5 separate regions of the Homo sapiens genome follow, and all the other regions are reported to be linked to region 1. Evidence: microRNA targets listed by miRTarBase, many of them from high-throughput screens and not tested one by one. Region 1 holds a microRNA gene; each other region holds the end of a gene's coding sequence. Distances are between the middles of the regions.
What was found. The annotated mature microRNA hsa-miR-4668-5p reads AGGGAAAAAAAAAAGGAUUUGUC and lies in region 1 at 1,439-1,461, shown strand. An mRNA with a match to its seed (bases 2 to 7 or 8) in the 3' UTR can be bound and repressed. Matches are read on the target gene's strand: a 7mer-m8 pairs with bases 2 to 8, a 7mer-A1 pairs with bases 2 to 7 and ends in A, and an 8mer does both.

Region 2: miRTarBase lists IPPK as a target of hsa-miR-4668-5p. Seed matches in the 3' UTR shown: 7mer-A1 at 981-987 and 7mer-A1 at 1,426-1,432.
Region 3: miRTarBase lists KLHL18 as a target of hsa-miR-4668-5p. Seed matches in the 3' UTR shown: 7mer-m8 at 3,110-3,116 and 7mer-A1 at 912-918.
Region 4: the mRNA of MRI1 is a reported target of hsa-miR-4668-5p. Seed matches in the 3' UTR shown: 8mer at 3,282-3,289.
Region 5: miRTarBase lists NXT2 as a target of hsa-miR-4668-5p. Seed matches in the 3' UTR shown: 8mer at 2,288-2,295.

Annotation. Positions count from the first base shown.
Region 1 is chr9:111,930,662-111,935,073 of GRCh38, forward strand. It overlaps MIR4668 (microRNA 4668), which reads left to right and starts at 1,439; the gene lies at 1,439-1,508. It overlaps UGCG (UDP-glucose ceramide glucosyltransferase), which reads left to right. Exons shown (of 9, transcript NM_003358.3): 7 at 610-696; 8 at 1,509-1,698; 9 at 2,166-4,412. The coding sequence ends at 2,336.
Region 2 is chr9:92,612,535-92,616,534 of GRCh38, reverse strand. IPPK (inositol-pentakisphosphate 2-kinase) reads left to right here. Exons shown (of 13, transcript NM_022755.6): 13 at 478-3,352. The coding sequence ends at 703. It overlaps CENPP (centromere protein P), which reads right to left. Exons shown (of 8, transcript NM_001012267.3): 7 at 3,921-4,000; 8 at 1-3,516. The coding sequence ends at 3,386. Among named protein-coding and RNA genes, the nearest start is that of IPPK, 56 kb to the left of the region's middle.
Region 3 is chr3:47,343,645-47,347,644 of GRCh38, reverse strand. KLHL18 (kelch like family member 18) reads right to left here. Exons shown (of 10, transcript NM_025010.5): 10 at 829-4,000. The coding sequence ends at 3,704. Among named protein-coding and RNA genes, the nearest start is that of PTPN23, 35 kb to the left of the region's middle.
Region 4 is chr19:13,771,757-13,775,756 of GRCh38, reverse strand. It overlaps MRI1 (methylthioribose-1-phosphate isomerase 1), which reads right to left. Exons shown (of 6, transcript NM_001031727.4): 6 at 1,475-3,636. The coding sequence ends at 3,476. It overlaps C19orf53 (chromosome 19 open reading frame 53), which reads right to left and starts at 1,301. Exons shown (of 3, transcript NM_014047.3): 1 at 1,183-1,301; 2 at 1,050-1,105. The coding sequence starts at 1,279. RefSeq lists enhancers at 236-764, 765-1,294, 1,271-1,470, 1,541-1,610.
Region 5 is chrX:109,542,158-109,546,157 of GRCh38, reverse strand. It overlaps NXT2 (nuclear transport factor 2 like export factor 2), which reads right to left. Exons shown (of 4, transcript NM_001242617.2): 4 at 1,460-3,651. The coding sequence ends at 3,470. Among named protein-coding and RNA genes, the nearest start is that of NXT2, 7.3 kb to the right of the region's middle.

The sequences.
Region 1 (4,412 bases):
GTTTCACCATGTTGGCCAGGCTAGTCTTGAACTCCTGACCTCGTGATCCGCCCGCCTCAGCCTCCCAAAGTGCTGGGATTACAGGCATGAGCCACTGCATCCAGCCTAAAATACTTGTTTTTAAAGGAGATCACTGCCTTGTGTGAGAATTCTTTTAAATTTTTTAAAAACTGAAGTGTGTTTTAAATACAAATTCTGTCATGATTGTGTTCATGTGGTTCATGGTTTCCTAGTGTCTCCCATGAGATCCATAATGCCACTTTCTGTTTACATGTCTTGTTGTTTGGTTAGTAGTCATCAGAGACTAATCTATTAAATATGGAGCCCTCTCCATTTTTTTTCAAAATGACTGCATTTTAAGTTTCTTAAATTGTAAAGTAAGGTGGGTACAGTTTCTTCTAGTTCTTAGATGGTGCTGTCACGGGCCAGCATAATTGCTAAAACATCCATACGTATGGTAGACCTTAAGTCATGTGCTAATCATGAAAGCTGGGCTCACCCTGAATACCGGCAGTTGCCTGGTCTTTATAATGATTACTGAATGCATAACCAGTTACGCTTGCATGTGTTCATCATCATAACTTATTTTCTAATTATCTTAATTTTCAGAGGTTGGAGGTTTGCAATGTCCACTCAAGTTGCAATGCAAAACTCTGGCTCATATTCAATTTCTCAGTTTCAATCCAGAATGATCAGGTAAATCAACTGTTTTCTTTTTATACTTCGTTAAAAGGAAAGTGGGGAGGGGGGTGGTAATTTTTACAGGTTTAATGTAGTTAAATGAATGTACCTAAAGGTTGAAGATTTTTGTTTAGTTGCAGAAAATAGAGTTTAACGTCTGTGTTTAAGATAAATTTAATGTCTAAATGTATTTTATTTGCTGTATAACACTGAAAGCACTCATTAGAGAAATGTTGAGACTGAATTTTTTAATATGCTGATCTTTATTTTCTAACTTTCTGTGCTGATTAAATTTTATTATCTGTATTCATCAGAGCGTAGGCCATACAAATGAATTTAAAGACATTTTTCTTTGACATCCTAGACAAAAATAGAAAAGAGAGTCATTAAAAAAAATTTTTAGGTTGTGTGTGGTGGCTCACACCTGTAATCCCAGCGCTTTGGGAGGCCAAGGCGAGAGGACTGCTTGAGCCCAGGAGTTTGAGACCAGCCTGGGCAAAATGGTGAAACCCTGTCTCTACAAAAAATGCAAAAATTAGCCAGGTGTGGTGGCGTGTACACCTGTGGTCCCAGCTACTTGGTGGGATGAGGTGGGAAGATCGCTTGAGCCTGGGAGATTGAAGCTACAGTGAGTGCCACTGCACTCCAGCCTGGGTGACAGAGCAGAACCCCGTCTCAAGTAAAAAAAAAAAAACAAAACAAAAAAAGTTTAAAGAGAATGGTCTTTCTATCACAGGGTAAAAAAATTGATTATTTGAGGGAAAAAAAAAAGGATTTGTCTTGTAGCCAGGATATTGTTTTAAAGAAAATCCTTTTTGTTTTTCCAGGTGGACCAAACTACGAATTAACATGCTTCCTGCTACAATAATTTGTGAGCCAATTTCAGAATGCTTTGTTGCCAGTTTAATTATTGGATGGGCAGCCCACCATGTGTTCAGATGGGATATTATGGTATTTTTCATGTGTCATTGCCTGGCATGGTTTATATTTGACTACATTCAACTCAGGGGTGTCCAGGTATGTGGATAGGCATGAAAAGGTTGGCAGTCCCTTGGTGGAACTAGAACTATTTCAATTTAGAAAAAGTTGAAGGAAATGTATCTGAGCCATTCTTCAGCTTCCCATTGTAGGTTAGTCTCGGGTTTGAACATGACTTTCTCTAGTGGAATGTTGATGCAAAACTTAAGTCGATTTGCAACTTTCTATTGGTTATATAATCGCTTTTATTAAGTTTCCAAAAACATGAAGTTAATTAAATCAGTGAGTATTGAAACTAATAAGACATTAAGATAGCAGTTATTTTAATGCTTCATTAACAATTAGCATTTTCTTGAACGGTATAACATGGCAGTTAAATTACATAAGGAAGCAGACTTGATTTTACATAGTATACTTAGAAAAGTGAAATCCAAGAATTTAATTTTTTAACCTTGTCTTTAGTTTGACAGTGAGTGAAATTAAAAAATTTTTTTTTCCATTCCTAGGGTGGCACACTGTGTTTTTCAAAACTTGATTATGCAGTCGCCTGGTTCATCCGCGAATCCATGACAATATACATTTTTTTGTCTGCATTATGGGACCCAACTATAAGCTGGAGAACTGGTCGCTACAGATTACGCTGTGGGGGTACAGCAGAGGAAATCCTAGATGTATAACTACAGCTTTGTGACTGTATATAAAGGAAAAAAGAGAAGTATTATAAATTATGTTTATATAAATGCTTTTAAAAATCTACCTTCTGTAGTTTTATCACATGTATGTTTTGGTATCTGTTCTTTAATTTATTTTTGCATGGCACTTGCATCTGTGAAAAAAAAAAAAAACACATCTGTAGTCTTGGCCAAATGATACACTTTATTTTGTGGAAGTAGAGAATCAAGAGAATTGGTTCTAGGAACCTGGGTTCGTTCATCATTGTTGTTTATTTTTTTAAAATAAATAAATAAATATATATATAGATGCTCTGCAACAAACTCTGTGACAGTATCCTTCAGTAGAGAAAGTTTCTTACTTGTGAGTACACTCTTTTAGAACATTTACGGGTGGCAGCAGCTTTGCTTTAGAGTTTAGAAGATAATAGAAGGAATGACTATTCATGTCCAAAGTGAATGGTTTTGTGCAGTGAACAACACATGGCGAGGTACTAACTGAGAAACTTTTTCATGCTTTATGCCTACCTCTTGTAGTTGTTGCAGAGCAAATATAAATTGTAATAAGATAGCTAGGCCTTGCAGAAACAAACAGAAAAACTTAAAAAAAAATGATATAAGAGCTGGAGTCTAGTATTTATATGAATCTGTGAGAGATAATTTTTTTGGTCTCACTGCAATGAACCAAAAGCGGCTGAGTTTGGTTTTTAATTGTAGCCATGTATTGAAGGCATCTTTTTGACCAACTCTTGTTGGTTCTGTCTTGAACCATTGTTAATCACTGTGCTGTAATTAGTATAGCTAAATCTTTTCCTTCCTTGCTCCTCCCCCAGCCCACCCCGTCTTCCCTTAACATTTTTTCAGGGGGGGTTGGGAGTGGTTTCATTTTAGTGTGAGTGGATGTTTTGATAGTTGTAAGGAAAAAATGCATTTCAGACACATTTCACACATGAGCTATTTTCTTACACAGTATGTCTTATTGTTAATAAGAATGTAATTTCATGATACAAGTATTTAATACCTTTTTTAAGTCAGTAAATATTCTAGCCATCAATAAATTGCAGTAGAGTATTAAGAGGGGACAGGATGAGTTTACTCTTAAAATTAATCAGTATCAAACTAAGTCTACTGTGTGTGTTTTTTTTTTTTGTTTTTTGTTTTTGTTTGTTTACTATTATAGTAAGTCTAGTCTTATTTAAATTGGATTTTTGTATTCAAGTTTATATGACAAAATAGACTAGATCAGCGCTGGTTGTAAATGCATGCTGTACCTCACTGTTTTCTCCCCATCATGCCGCTAAACTTGCTCGCCAGGTTGTGCTTAACTTGTGGTGAACTGGACTTGATTCTGTTTTGTTTTGTTTTTTTAAAAAAAAAAAACAAAAATGTAAGGGACAGTGCATAAGCCTTTTCTTTGTTAAGTAGTGGTGTTTTGCTTTTTCTTCAGGATTGGATGGCATGTTGTCCACAGGAATGCCTACTGCAGGGCTAACACTGGCAATATGGCAGCTTTAAATTCTGAGTTACTACAGTCTCCATGTCAAAGCATAATGTGTAGCATATCAGCAATAACTACATATTTATAGAAAACACTTTTTCACTTTACTGAGCCAATTCATTTAATTGTCAAATGTCTATATCCATGGTTTAAATGGCAACATATCTATAAGTATGTATACACATTATATTTAAGCTTTTCTCTGGGCCAAACTGCTTCATCCTTTTTTCTTTCTTTTTTTTTTTTTTTAGCCTTATGATGAATTTGTTTGAAGGGCATTTTCTTTATGAACAAAGGCTTGGATGCATATTCCTTTCTTTCTGTGAATGGGTATTATTCCCTGAGGAAAGTTGCACAGTGAAAACCAGTCTGGTTGTGACCCACTACATGTTTTGTTTTTAATCACTATTACCTGAGTTGAACTTTGCTCACCATGTTTGTACTTGTTGGTCTGTTTAATGAAGTTTGGTTGATGCCATCCTTTGCACTGCCGAAGCGTAATCTTGTGTATTACTTAGCTCTCTGCTGATCTCAGTATGGACAGTGTAACAACAAAACCAAAATGGCTGGACAGACTTCTTGTG
Region 2 (4,000 bases), 19 Mb from region 1:
CGACATTCCATCCATTTGGCGCTGGAATGGCCAGATCTACTTTTTACTTTTTGTTGGGTTTTGTAATACTTGGCTCATGATAAAGTGATTTTTCAGCGTTCGTTTATACCACTGGGCTGGGGGAACATCGCTCACATGTTCCACATAATTACTTTTCCATCTTTCAGTCCTTTAACCCTCTCTCGCCTGGTATGGTGGGGTGCACTGGCCTGAGGAAGCTTTGCACGCTGGTGCACACAGCCGGCACAGACAGCTGTCACACGCACAGATCACAGGTGCACAGAACGAGTGCTCTTTGTGAGCTGGGGTGTGAGGCCATTCACTTCTCTTTTAAAAGAGATTGATTTATCTAACTTTGCAGAAGTCAAAGAAAAAACATAAAAACATACTAGTTGAAAGAAGAAAGGGAGAGAGAACGGGAGGGAGGGAAATGAATGGGGGGCTTGTGTATCCTGAAATGGTACTTTTTACTTGCAGCTCTGATCAAAGGCCTGTCGTCCCTTCATCGAGGTCCAGGTTTGCCTTTTCCGTGTCTGTGCTGGACCTTGACCTCAAGCCCTACGAGAGCATTCCCCATCAGTATAAACTGGACGGCAAGATCGTCAACTATTATTCAAAGACTGTACGTGCCAAAGACAACGCCGTGATGTCGACTCGGTTCAAGGAAAGCGAAGATTGCACATTAGTTCTCCACAAGGTCTAACTCTTTCCCTGCAGTGTCTTTGAAACTTGAACATAATGTGAAGGCTGAATGATAGAGATATTTTCTGTTGTGTTGGGTGACCTTTGGTTGTGAATGTTTTTGCTTTTAACCCCTTTTGAGGTGGGATTGCCTCTTGGAGACATGGAATTGAAGAGCACTAGAAACAACTTCCTGGACAAGGAATGTAGGAAGTGAGTGCTGTGTCCCAGGAAGCTGCTCACACTCTTAAAATGGAAGTGTCCGTTAAGCCCTGGGAAGACGTTCTGGATAGTTCTTCTTTCCCAACCAGGGCTCATGTCTGATTCTCTAATGCGAAAAGCCTTATTCTAAGACCCAAGGTTTGGATCTGCTACCACCAGACTCCTAACATAGAAAACTTGAATTGTCACATACATTTTACAGTTTGGACTTTTAAGAAAACATGGATACTACTGGAACTTCCCCCAGCTGAGTTACATGGTCACTTTTTCAGTGCAAGCCACATATCAACACAGGTTTTTAGGTGGTTCCCTGCTGCACAGCGTGACCTCGTGGTCGCGCAGATGCCGATTCTGAGCAGTGTAGACTCAGGGTCCCTGTGGAGGTGCTGAAGCCCACAGTTCCACACAGGGCAGCAGGGAGCGCAAGGCTCAGGTCAGGATGGACACCACTCATGCGAGCATTGACCTTTTTTTTTTTGCTTTACAATTTAATCTTTCACATGAGGGGGAGATGAGCTGTTCTTTCCCACTAAAAATTGCTGCTGTAGAAGTTGGAGGTGGAGCTGTGACTGGCTGAGCTGCTGTGGCCGGGCTGGGCAGTGTGCCCCAACAGCTCAGTGCTTTCCTGACACTCCAGTGTCTGGGGTGGTTGAGGAGCGAGTTCTCTCTTCCTCCCAGACCAAGTTCCTCCCTCGGGTTTGCCTTGAGACGTGTTGCGTTTTTGGGCCCCGTGGCCTCTCCCTGTTAGGCTGCCACAGGCCCTGCTTCTGGAAGGTGAACAGCTCCTGGCTGCTGCCGAGAGGGTTCTCGTTGGGGTCACCAAAGTGTGCCCGGCTGCTATGAAAAACGTTGGGAATCTTGGTTTCAGTTTTTTATTCTATGCTAGGTTGTACAGACTTATTTATATCATCGTTTTGAGGGACTAATGGAGGCTTATTGTAACATATAATATTAGTGAAACCATGGAATTATATGAAAATGATACATGAGAAATAAGGAAACTATTTTGCTGATTGTAAATTTTTGTGGGAAATTTTGTGATAACTTGAGAATTATACTTGTTTGAATCAAGGCAACTCTTCTAGAATTTATTGTTCAATTCTGTCATATTTACTTCTAATTCTACTCTCAGAGGTGCAAAAAGATACTTATCTAACTGGACACTTTTACTGTTTTCTTCTCACTTCCAATGACACCGTCTCATACACACGGGTCCTGTGTGCTGGGATGGGGGCTTTGGTGAAGTGCACGGAGCTCACGGACAAGCCGCAGGCTCTGGGAAGCGTGGAGGTAGTGGCCGTTGAGTACTGTCTTGACCCAAGGGAGTTCACTGTTGCTGGGCTGGGGCTGGGGCAGCCTGGTTTGGGATGATTTTGCCCATTGTCACGGTGTGTGGAGGATGCTGGGTCCTGGGTTCAAGTGCACATGTGAGGGAACCCCAGTCCGTGGGAAGGTGGGCTGGGCTCCCTAGGTCCTTCAGGGCTGCAAGAGTTATTGCCTAGCACAGGGCCCAGACAGGGCTGGACTAGACACGATGAAAACAGCCTGTATTTGAGGGAGAAGAGAAAACAGATGGAGACCCCCACTCTGTCTGGTCTTGGCTCCCACCAGCCCGGGCTGTGAGGAGCCCCTGAGCCGCGGGTGCCACTGCTGTGGATGCGTTTCTGGCCCGTCTTGGAAACTGCTGCTGCTGCGTAGTCATGACGGCCCTGACTGGTTTGAGACAACACGCGTTCACAGATCTTAACAATGCTAAATGGGCGACTGATGAGGTCACGGTTCTTAAGGCACATCCGGGACGATCGATATAGCACTTAGGCTATGCAGGGGGGTCTTTCTTTCATAAAGGACCTCATTCCTTGCGTCCCAGCCCAGGAACAGTGCTGTCTTTGCTGTCTTAGGCCATTCTTGTTATTAAGCTGACAGCTTCACTTTCTTGTGGAAGACCAAGAACAGCATGAGGACTTGCTGAGACTGCCTCACGGTGCCACCATGCGGACCGGGGGGAGGCAGGGAGTGAGGGTGTGGCTCCCCTGGGCTACTAAGGACAGTTTAAAGATGAGGCGCCATAGGCATCCGTCTCCAGAGCCCCCAGGAGGCAGGAACCAGGATAAGGGTGGCTTCTCCCAGCTGAGTAATGTGGCCACCATGTCCAAGGTGGACTCGGTGTGAGGCTGCAGTGGGTGGGGGATGGATCCTCCCCACACATCTGAGGACACACAACCACTTGGTACATTTTCTCAGATGTTAAGCTTATTTTTATAAACCACATTGTACGTGTCACTTTTATTTGGCATTTTATACTTAACTAGTTGTATTTATTTTTCATGTCATGAGAGTTTCCATATAATGTGCCATAACTGCATAGACAGCACGTCTTCAGGGTGTGGTTTCTAAGCAGAAAATAGCAAATGTTTATATTGAATAAAATTGCATGTTCCTCCACGCAGCATCTTCATCCTCCACGTTCACTGTTTTGGAACTAGTTGTTCTCCTCTGCACAAAGCGATTTTATCAGGCTTTCCAGAGCAGCTTCGATTCCAAGCAGTCCTACCAGGGTTCGGAAGCTGAGAGGAGCAGTTTCTATGGCTCTGTTCTTGTCCAGCTCCAGGGCTATAAAGAAAACATTAAACCGGGTAAGAAACTTCAAGGTGGCAGCTTTTGGTCTTTTGTTTTCTGCTGGCATGGACCTCACCAAGACCCCGCACTCCTCCCGACTAGCTGCATGGGATGGGACATGCTAGTGGCGGGCGAGGAGATGGAGTGAGTGGAGGCCTCACCTACGGCTGGAGGCATATTCCCTGTGCATTCAGCCTGGGAGGGCCTTGGGGCAGCAATCCCTTTTCATGTTCTTTTTGAGTGATTATTGATAAAAATATTTAAAAATTGATAGACAAAGTACATTAATGAGATTTCCAATTTTTGATTCTTGCCCTTTGAAACCCAGAGGAAACAGGCAGGCGGCTTTGCTGGGCATGTTGAGAAGTCACCTAGAGCAGCCACACCCAGGGCCCTACCTCGCTGTGGGACTTTGGTGAGAAGATCCAGCTTTGGAAAAACCTTCCCATCTTCATCTATTTGTATCCTCCAAACAATG
Region 3 (4,000 bases), not on the chromosome of region 1:
CTCCGTGGGGATTACTGAGGACCATGTGAGATTCAACTGATAAGAGTGTTTATATGTAAGACATGTCCTGGTGGGGTGTGTGTGGGAGTGATATGCCTTCCAAAAACTTAAAAAAATTAAGTTGCCATCCAGGAGTCCAATGGACAAGATTGATCACAAGCTGACTTTTGGAAAAGTGTGACTGAAGAGTTTCCCAACAGGCAAAACCACACTAACCACAGTGTAATCTTGGAAGAGCAGATCTGGAATGCGGCTGTATTTGGGGAAGTGAAACTGAAGATGGGAGTATAGTTCTCACACTGAAGAGCATGCAAATCACCAAGGAAACTTGCTCACGCCAGAATGCTGAGCTGCACCCCAGCCCTAGGGAACCTGTCTCTAGAGAGGGACTTAGGAACGGATCTGTGGTTTAAACATTTTCCAGTGACTTTTATGTGCACCAAAGTTAAAGCACCTCTCGCCTAGAGCATAAAAAAGGAGCTGGAGATGCTGATTCCAGGCAGTCAACAGGCAGCCACATTCCACTGGGAAACTCTGGAGTTTTAGGGCAGTGAATGGAGAAAAGGGGAAATCCGAGAGTAGGGGCGATCAGGACAGGCACCAATATGCAGTCCCAAAGTGCAAATGAAGTCTTTGCATATTTTTCACCAGAAGTGACTCTCATAAAATAAATCTCTCCAAAGACTACTTTTGCTGTACATCTGGCTTTTCCCTTATATTCACAGAAATATTCCCATTTTGTCCAATATATTTTTTTCAGTGAATCACAATTAAAAAACAAACATGTACTTCTAATATCTGAGAAATAAACCAAGAAAGGACAAGAGCTATTAGGAGTGTTCTCTTTATTTCTCTTTGGTTTCTTAACACAAAAGACATGCATTCTATAAATAAAAGGAACTAAGATTTTCTGGGAAACCATAAATTGGGAGGAATTCCCACAGTCACACCTCTGTGGTCAAGAGGATGGTCTTCAGCCCCCATCTGGCTGTAATCTCTGATGAAATCCAGAAGAGAAGGCCCGTGTGTTATCCAAGAAGGTGAAACACTCAAGGACAGTGAATGCCACAGTCCTCTGCTCAGAGCTGGGCTAGGCCCCAAGGCCCACTGAGTACAATGTCTACCCTATCTCCTTGTTACATCCTTTTTACAATATCCTTGGGTGATGCTTCTTTTCATGGGGCTATTGGAAAGGCTCCAACACCAAAGAGCCAGACCAGCCATTTACGAATAGCCATTCACCATCGGACTGAGGAACCTACTGGGAGAGTGTGAATATGTTGGTGTTTCCTGACTTGTGCTCAGAGCCCAGATCAAAACACTGGCTTGATCTTACTTTGAAACATCGACCTCAGGTGCAGCAGTGTAAATTCTACACCAGGAGGTGGGATTGGACTCAGGAAGTCCACTACAAGAGCAGCAGGCCATGGTAGAAAATGATCTGCCATACCCAGTGGCAAAATCTGGGCCAGTATCCTAAGGACCCACTCAGTAGCCCACAGACCGATTCTTAATACCTTCACAATCCAGGCTTGTTGGTGCTACTTCAAATTCACAAAAGAAAGGGGCTTATAATAAGACAAGCACTGATACACTCCTAACAGGAAATGCACACCCCACCCACCTTCCGAGTCTACCCCTACAGGCAAACCAGGAAGGAGGGAGAAATGCTGGAGCCCTACCACGAGCCCAGGTTAAACGACATCCGATATCAGATTGTTGAGACGTTAAAAATAAAAATATCATTTTCAAGTGCTTGTAGCAGAGGCCTAGCTCCTAAGTTGTAGGTAACAAAGGTACTTCCCTCTGAATACATGGCGATTGCACACACTGGTAAACCTGACGGTCCTGGGGTGGGGGAGACACCCCAGGCTCCACATTGTGCCTTTCTGAACAGGCTTCCAGGCCACCCCAGGCAGGCAGCAAAGGATAGGAAACCAAGCAGGTGGAGACTGGAGCCCTAAGACTCAGTCTTGGGTTACAGGAATTGAATCTTCTTTTAGTCTCTACTGGAAGAATTTTAGAAAACCAATTTTGGCAGCAGCAGTTGAAGGACAGCCCCACTGCCCAGTGCACTGGCAAGAGAAAATGTCCTCCTCTTTGAGTCCCGCTGTGCTACATTAGGTCCTATCCAGGGAGGAGGAAGCAATATGAAATCTTTCCAAAAGGTAAAGGTCATTTGCCAAGATTAGAGGAAGAAATATAAAATCTGTTCTTTGCAGCAGCAAGAGATTCTTTCGGCCTTTAGTTCTTTATGTCATAAAAGCCAGCTGTGCTTGAATGTAAAGGTCCACCTTGCTGGTCAGTCTGCCCAGGGCTGGAGGGAGGCCAGACTCTTGGGATTGGCGAGTGGATGGAGGAGCAGTGGAATGGCAGAGCAGACAAGGTTACCAGACCAAGCCCGCCCACAGCTGGTAGAAGGAAGCCCTGGTTAGGTTCTAGAGGTGCATATGGTCAACGTGCCCCAGAAGCATCACAATGAGGGAAATCATCCAAGAACGAGATTGATGGGCAAGTGAGAATCTGGCCAGACCTGCTGTTTCCTGCTGGTCAAAAAAGGAAGCAATGTTAGTGAGAGTGGGGAATCTGAATGAGCGCCATGGTGGCAGTAGGAGGTAATCACAGGGGCGCCTGGAGCCCCCAGCCACAGCTAGGAGCCCCCACCAAGAAGAGTGGCAGTAATTCAGCAGATAGCCTAACTCTCTACGCCTATGATTTTAAAAGTCCTCTGATGGTGGGTGAGAAGACAAACCCCATGAGCACCTTACTACAGGCCCAGTCAAGAGTGCACTGATTCCACACACACTGGGGCTCAGAGGGAACCCCCAGCTCAATGCGAGGCCTCAGGACCCTGGGATCCGAATGTGGGGTGGATACCGCCCTTCTCCAGTTAGACGATTTTCCATTTAAACATAGATTTGCCGTTAGTGTCTTTTATGCTTTTTTCTTCTTGCAAAATTTGTTCACATAAAAAAATTATTTTTCTTTCCAGTTTCTTTCAAGTGTTTCTTTGTTTAAATTTCCTTCAGTTTCTTTCAAGTATCTTTTTTTCCCTTCTGTTCTCCTGGACAGATCAAAAGGCCTCACTGAAATCCCAAAATTAGACATGGGGAAAACTTCTCTTCTCCCTGCTTACCCAGCAATGAGGACAGAATCCTTGGTGCCCCACTGTGGAAGAAGGAATGTGCCTGTGTGCAGCCTTCCACTGCTGTGGCCACACCATCTCAGGCAGGGAGAACGCTTGGGTCTGTCCTTTCGTCCCCAGCTACATCCCAGTTTCCAGCAGGCTTGGACACTGCAGCCTCCCCATGGCAAATTGGCCAGACTCGGCTGGAGAGCAAGCAGGCGATGGGGAGCATCAGATGGAAGGCCTTCTGTGAACAGCTGGCCCACAGAGAGGCGGTGGGTAGGAGCTGGGCCTGGATGGAGCCTGTGTTCATGTGGACCAGAAAACAGTTCCATGTCACCAGCTGCAGGATCCAGAGGAGCTTGTGTTCCATGCTGTGCATCTTGATGACCCAAGCCTGAAGGTCACAAGGGTGGCACAGTGGGGGAGGGCTTAAGCACCTGGAAAAACTGTACCTCCGGCGAGCTCACGTTTCGCCATCTCTTCTGGTCCACTGCCTCTCCTGAGGGACTGTTCCTGGAAGGAAGCGCCTATGTCTGTACCAGATCCCTGCCCCACCACATCCCATCCTCTGCCTTAGATGGTGAGGAGAGGGATGCAGCCCACACCGACCCCTCCCTCATGGCACGCCATGGGGGCCATGAATGTCCAGCAGTCTGTCTCTGGGTCATACATCTCCACTGAGCTTAGGTTTGACTGTCCGTCGTAGCCCCCAACAGCGTAGAGGCGCCCACAGCTGGCCACCAGGGAGACCCGGCTCCTGCGCGTGTGCATGGGGACAATCAGGCACCACTGGTCTGCCACAGAGCTGTACATCTCGGCAATGCTGAGGAAGCCAGAGCCATCGTAGCCCCCGCAGACAAACATCTTGCT
Region 4 (4,000 bases), not on the chromosome of region 1:
GAAAACCGACACTCTGGGGTGACGAAACAATTTGCTCAAGATCACAGGGCTGTTTACTGTGGAGTACAATTCAAACCCAGGTTTGACTCCCACCAAAACCAGTTTTAAATCTCCTTCCAACTTCTTTACAAGCTCAACCTTACCCATCTACATATAAATGTTGCACTTAAAAACAACCATAGGGTGGCTCACGCCTGTAATCCCAGCATTTTGGGAGGCAGAGGCGGGAGGATGCCTTGAGGCCAGGAGTTCAAGACCAGCCCGAGCAGCATAGTGAAACCTGTCTCTACCAAAAATACAAAAAAAATAAAATTAGCCGCGTATTGGCGAGCACCTGCAATTCTACCTACTCGAGAGGCTGAGACGGAAAGATTGCCTAAGTCCAGGAGGCTGAGGCTGCAGTGAGCTATAATGGGGCCACTGCACTCCAGCCTGGGCAACAGTGAGACCCTGACTCAAAAAAAAATGACGATAACCAACGCACCCTCACACTTCTTTGAGCCCTCTGCTGTTCTAGGTTTACAAAGCTGGGCTTTCAATTCCCTTCCCATGTCACCTCGCTGTCTTCCTGAGTTCAATTAAAGAAAACAGTAACAGCAAGAGGCTGACGTTATTGGAACCCTTTTTGGGCCGCAGGTCTTGCTTCTACGAGGCCCTTTTGAAGTGGTAAGTGGTGTTCCTGCACCCCTTGCACAAGGAAGAAAAGGGAGGCCCACAGAGCTGGGAGTCCTCCAGGCCTCATCCCTTGCCCTTTGCCGATCCCTGTGCTCCTTCCCTCGCCGGCCTCCAGATTTCATCTCTCGTCCCTAGCACGTCCCCCAGCCCCTATCCCTCGCCAGCTTCCACCTCTTACCCCTCTCTGCGCCCCGGGCTCCATCCTTCGCTCCTAACGCGGCCCCTGGCTCTATCCCCTCGCTCCTAGCTCGTCCCCAGGATCCACCCTCTCCCCTCACTGATCCCCGGGCTCCACCCATCCCCCCTCGCCGTCCTCCGGGTTCCACCCCTCGCTACTCGCCGCCCTCCGGGCTCCATCTCTCGCCCCCGCACACCTTCTTGAGCTTTTGCTGCTGCACGACGCGCGCCTTCTTGGGAGCGATAACACGACCTGGGGAAAGATGTGCTCACGTGAGGCCGGGAAGCCGGGGGTCCACCTCGCCCCCAAGTCCCCGGGCCGCTCCTTACCGCCTTTTCTTGGGCCCCGATTCTTTTCAGAGGCTGCCGCTGCCGTCTTACTCTTTGCGGGTTTGTGCGCCTGAAACTTGCGCTGCCCCTGCGCCATGGTCCGGCACGCAGCGGAAGAGGCGGGACTGTGAGCAGTCGTAGCCGGAAGGCACAGGGAACCATGGGATACAGCGGGGCGGAAAAACGCAAGAACTCACGGGATACAACGTGGCACAGAGTTAAAGAGACAGCATCCCACAAGGGTAGTGTAGTGGATCACAGTTGGAGTTTTCAAACATTACGAACAAAACGGTGACAATGATAAGCTAACGTTTATTGAGAGCTTATGTGTTTTAGAAAACTTACAACGTTTTATGATCTTTACACATAAAAACTCAGACTAGGTTAGGGTGTGGCACTCACCTCTGGTACAGAATTTAAGAAGGTTCAAAAACTTTGGTAATAGTAAACAATATTTTCAAGACTTAAAAAATATTTTAATATCCAAAATAATCAAATTGTTAAACTACATCCTGCAGACCGGCAGCATAATTTTGTAAATAAAGTTTTAGTGGAACCAGGGTGTTGAGGTCAGTAAGCTCAAGGCACAAGTGCGGGGTTCTAGCCTCTTCAAAATTTTATTTAGGCCGGGCACGGTGGCTCACGCTTGTAATCCCAGCACTTTCGGAGGCCGCGGGGCGCGGATCACCCGAGGTCAGGAGTTGGAGACCAGCCACGACTAACATGGTGTCTCCAATAAAAATACAAAAATTAGCCAGGCATAGTGCCAGGCTCCTGTAATCCCAGCTACTCGGGAGGCTGAGGCAGGAGAGTCGCTTGAACCCAGAAGGCGGAGGTTGCAGTGAGCTGAGATGGCACCACTGTACTCCAGCCTGGGCGACAGAGCGAGACCCCGTCTCAAACAAATACTTGTTTTGTTCATCATGGATTTTTTTTTTTTTTTAAAGAGATGGGGTCTCACTCTGTTGCTTAGGGTGAAGTGCAGTAGTGCAATCAAAGCACACTGCATCCTTGAACTCCTGGGCTCAAGCCATCCTCCCACTTCAGCCTGAGTAGCTGGGGCTAGAGGTGTGAGTTCCATGCCCAGCTCATTGTTTTTAAATTTTTGTTTGTAGAGACAAGCTCTTCCTATGTTACCCAAACTGGTCTCAAACACCTGGGCTCAAGGGATCCTCCCAAAGTGCTGGAATTACAGGCATGAGCCACCAAGCCTGGCCTCATCATGGATTTTTGCATTAATTTTGATTTTTAAAAAATACTGCTGTAAGGTCAGGCACAGTGGCTCATGCCTGTAGTCCCAGCACTTTGGGAGGCTGAGGCAGGGGGATCATTTGAGTCAGGAGTTCGAGACCAGCCTGGCCAACATGGTGAAATCATGTCTCTACTAAAAATAGAAAAATTAGCTGGGCATGGTGGCGCATGCCTGTAATCCCAGCTACTCAGGAGGCTGTGGCAGGAGAATCGCTTGAACCGGGGAGGCACAGGTTTCAGTGAGCTGAGATCTCGCCTCTACATTCCAGCCTGGGTAACGAGTGATACTTGATCTCAAAAAAAAAAAACCCAAAACAAAATATTGCTTTAAAATATTTTTTATCTTGGTTGCTGAGCTTTTTTGGTGTCCTCTTAAAATTCTGCCCTGGAGATGTCACCCTAGCTCCAGCCCTGACCTTAAGAGGGAGGTACTAGTATTATCCACATTTATTTTTTATTTTTTTAATTAAATAATTAATTAATTATATTTATTTTTGAGACGGAGTCTCGCTCTGTTGCCCAGGCTGGAGTGCAGTGGCGCTATCTCGGCTCACTGCAAGCTCTGCCTCCCAGTTTCACGCCATTCTCCTGCCTCAGCCTCCCAAGTAGCTGGGACTGCAGGTGCCCACCACCACACCCGGCTAATTTTTTGTATTTTTAGTAGAGATGGGGTTTCACCATGTTAGCCAGGATGGTCTCAATCTCCTGATCTTGTGATCCACCTGCCTCGGCCTCCCAAAGTGCTGGGATTACAGGTGTGAGCCACTGCGCCCGGCCTGTTATCCACATTTTATAAATGAGGAAACCAAGGCACAGAGAGGTGAAGTGACTTGCCCAAGATCATACAGTGGGAAAAGTGGCGGAGTCAGGATTTGAATCTGGGCAGCCTGGCTCTAGGTGCTGGGCTCTAGATGGAAGGCCCTGTCTGAGCTCCCTGCACTAGGAACAAGTGTGGTCAGGGGCTGGACGGTCAGCTTTTGGGTAGCCATTCAAGAAATGTATTGAAAAACCTAGAGAGGCAGGCTAGGGAGAGCTGAGTTGGTTACATCTGGGGTCCATCTAGGGTTCCATCCCTGGAAGAGATGGTGGTGGTTAGGGCTGTCCGGAGCTCCTCAGGGGCAAAGACCCCCAGTTCTGTGATGATGCCACCAGTGATGAGGTCGTGGGGGGTGACATCGAAGGCAGGATTCCAAACTCCAATCCCTGCAGGGGAGAGAGGGGAGGCAAGGAGGCAAGAATTTGCTTCTGTGAAAGTTCTCAGGTTGTAGTCATCTGTTTCTACCACAGTGGTTCTTGGAGTTGGGGAGTCCTTGAGAACCTGAGGATTCTCACCCCAAAAGTACATGCAGGCATGGACATTGTACTCAATAGTAAGTTTAGACTCGCCACTGCCCCTAGAATGTCAGTCCCCAAGAAAAATTCAAAGTCCTATACACATCTATGCCACTTATTTTTTTATTTTTTGTGAGATGTAGTTTTGCTCTTGTTGCCCAGGCTGGAGTGCAATGGCACGATCTTGGTTCACTGCAACCTCCACCTCCCAGGTTTCAAGCAATTCTCCTGCCTC
Region 5 (4,000 bases), not on the chromosome of region 1:
TTTGTGTATTTTGGCTTTTGTTGCCACTGCTTTTGGTGTTTTAGTCATGAAGTCCTTGCCCATGCCTATGTCCTGAATGATACTGCCTAGGTTTTCTTCTAGGGTTTTTATGGTTTTAGGTCTAACATTTAAGCCTTTAATCCATCTTGAATTAATTTTTGTATAAAGTGTAAGGAAGGGATCCAGTTTCAGCTTTCTACATATGGCTAGTCAGTTTTCCCAGCACCAGTAGGGAATCCTTTCCCCATTTCTTGTTTTTGTCAGGTTTGTCAAAGATCAGATGGTTGTAGATGTGTGTTATTATTTCTGAGGGCTCTATTCTGTTCCATTGGTCTATGTCTCTGTTTTGGTACCAGTACCATGCTGTTTTGGTTACTGTAGCCTTGTAGTATAGTTTGAAGTCAGGTAGCATGATGCCTCCAGCTTTATTCTTTTTGCTTAGGATTGTCTTGGCAATGCAGGCTCTTTTTTTAGCTCCATATGAACTTTAAAGCAGTGTTTTCCAATTCTGTGAAGAAAGTTCTTGGTAGCTTGATGGGGATGGCATTGAATCTATAAATTACCTTGGGCAGTATGGCCATTTTCACAATATTGATTCTTCCTATCCATGAGCATGGAATGTTCTTCCATTTGTTTGTGTCCTCTTTTATTTCGTTGAGCAGTGGTTTGTAGTTCTCTTTGAATTAATTGCCTCCCACAGGGGTTTCTTCTTTATTAGTCTTACTAGTACTCTATCTATTTTGTTGATCTTTTCAAAAAACCAGCTCCTGGATTCATTGATTTTTTGAAGGGTTTTTTTTTGTGTGTGTGTGTCTCTATCTCCTTCAGTTCTGCTCTGATGTTAGTTATTTCTTGCCTTCTGCTAGCTTTTGAATGTGTTTGCTCTTGCTTCTCTAGTTTTTTTAATTGTGATGTTAGGGTGTCGATTTTCGATCTTTTCTGCTTTCTCTTGTGGGCATTTAGTGCTATAAATTTCCCTCTACACACTGCTTCAAATGTGTCCCAGAGATTCTGGTATGTTGTGTCTTTGTTCTCATTGGTTTCAAAGAACATCTTTATTTCTGCCTTCATTTCGTTATTTACCCAGTAGTGTTGACATATTTTTAATGTAGAATTAAATTTAATGAACCATTCTTTCTGGAAATCAACTGTATTTTGGTTTCACTGCCTATCGAATATAGCATTTTAGCTGGTTTCTCAAGGTTAAGATTTCCAACTTCTCACCAAAAACCTACAGGTATCTCAAACAAGTGATGATCTCAGGAATGTGAATAATTGGCAGGAAAAGGAGACAGATGTGGCAGGTTACAGAAAGAACCAAAAGAAGATCCAAGTTGTTAACCATTGTTGTCAACACACTACTGTAATTTTTTTCTAAATTTAAAAAACCTTATATTGTAAAGAAACAAGTAACCATTCTGAAACCTAAGAACAAAAATCAAAAGACCTTAAAACAATCTTGAGAAAATCTGTCACAAGGCAAAATTTTATTTTTTCAAGTTACAAAAATAGGAGCATGTCAAAAATACAGTCTAGTCCTTATACGAGTAGTTCCAGCCATTTAAAAGTTATACAGAGTTTGGAAAAAGCAGTTTATATACAAGTCTTAAAACACAACAATCATGAACAATGCACACCGTTCAATGTAGTTATTGCTAGTTATATGCAGCTTTTAGTTACCATTGTTCTTCTCTGTAAGGGAAAGGACAGCATTTGGACATTCTGATTGTTGCTGCTGAAGCTGTGGTTTTGGAAAATCAATCCAAAATAAGAATAAGCTCACTATGAGTAGAATAAAACGTGTAAGTTTCAATCAGTACTACAAGAAAGCATGGTTTAAATTTGAGTTCCATACAATTCTACATAACTCTATTTTGTTACTATAACAGAAATACAGTGTATAGTTTTGGGCAAGAGTAAATGAATTACTGGTTTTATAATTAAGTGAAAAGAAACAGTTTTTGGTTGCAATGTAGAAACAAAGCTGGCATATCTAGCTTACAAACATTAAAAAATGGAAAAGATATTTAATGTTTAAGCAAAAGCTGAACCTAGGTTATTTACCTTTAGAAATTAAGAGATAAAGTTAAGCATTTTGTTCTTTTGAGGATTATCATGAAGATTTGCTATTCTCTATTTTCTTTTTAAAAAGAAGAGTTATCCACATAGCGGGAACATATTTTGAAACAGATCTATTTGCTCAATGTCATATGGAAGAACAAATCACAAAATTAAATAATTCTACCTTTAAATAATTAAAGATAATGCAGTTGACAGTACAAAGCACTGGGAAAAAATCACTTATTTGGGGGATGTGTGATACATAAGAAACTTTGGGCCTAAAGTTCACATGGAAGACTGGAAGACTTAAAATTTAAGGGTGTCACCAAAAGATAACAATGGCTTTGACTCCAACTCTCATGTTAGACCCTGTTAAAAGGTTAGGTTTATTGCTGTTATTTTACCCCAGTAAGTTATTGAATAAATGGAGATATACATTGGTGATAAGTATGAGGTGAAGTAAAAAGATCTAAAAATATTAGTCTTAGAACAAAAATGACACTCATGATCACTTGGCAAGGATACTTATTTACTTAGTGATTTAAATCCTAAAAATAAGCTACATTTTTAGGAGGTAGAAAACAAGTACCAATAGTTTACCATTTGGCCACCCTCCTTACTTTTGGCTTCAGCCTTGGATTTCTATTTCTCATTCCCTATTCTCCTGTTAAAGCTATTAGTTCTACTACCATTCATTACCTAAATGTATAGACCTGGAGCTGCCAAGAAAAATCTTTTTAGGAAGCTTTGCTTTTAAGCCACCAAATGCACCCAATACTCAGATATCAACTGAGAACGTTTTGCACCTCTCTAGTTGATTAATTTACTTCACACAAAAAAATGCCAAAACAAAAATTACTTAAAATGAAAAACGACCACTGAACATCTCTATATGCAATTCCAGTATGTCAGAGTAGTTATGTAAACCTAAATCTGTACTATTTTCACTGAACTGATTTGAAAAAGCCATATATTAAAATGGCATTACCAGTGTTAACTGAAAACAGGCAACGTGTTTTACTAGAAAATTAACCTAATAACCAAAAAACTCCACTTCTTCCCAGAGTGTTATATTGTGCTGACATCCCATAGATAATATTATAAAAAGATTTTATTTTTGCAATAGGCTGGGTTCACAGTGAGTATGTTAGTACCAAGATCATGTGTTTAATATTATTATAAGAATGTCATTAGTGGAATGTATATAAGGCATGTAAAAAAATAGTTTTAAAGCTCTTAGAGGGCAATGCTCCAAACTGGCAGCTGCTAGAAAAGGTGCTGACAGGAATAGAAAATATTAAAGAAATTTAGTTTCAGCACATATTATAGTGCTTCTACAATCAAAATAATTCACATAAATTTCAATTGCTGGAACTAATGGACCAAATGAGAATGGACTTTTGCCCCTTTAACTACTAGACCAATCTTGAAAACGGAAGCAATCACTTGCAATCTTCCACACAGTATTGTTGGGAGTGGACTGAGCAGTCAGCAGGAAGTTCTGGTTGAAGAAATGTTGTTTGTTTCCATCAAACTTCACAGTTCCACTGGTCACAACAAGAACTGTAGTTTGGGACTGAGTTGCTTGCTCTTCATCCACATTAAAAAAAAAAGAGAACACATCATTTTCTATCTCTAAATAAGCAGATTTTCAGGCTTAAAATACATTGTTTATGGACTAATGCTTAAAATTTTTTTCATACACTTTCTGTCCCTTGAGCATAATCTTAAGCATGCATACTCAAACCCAGAAAACTAAGTACTTAGTAAAAGATATTAAAATTATTTTCAGTCCAGAAAACTTTGGGATACTCTAGTTTCAAAATGAGGAGCTTATATCTAGCATAGGACCATTTGCTTCATATATATATAAATATTTCAGAATTAATATTTCAGGTTTCTAACAGAGCTTATTCATGCTTTGCTTCTTAAACTATTG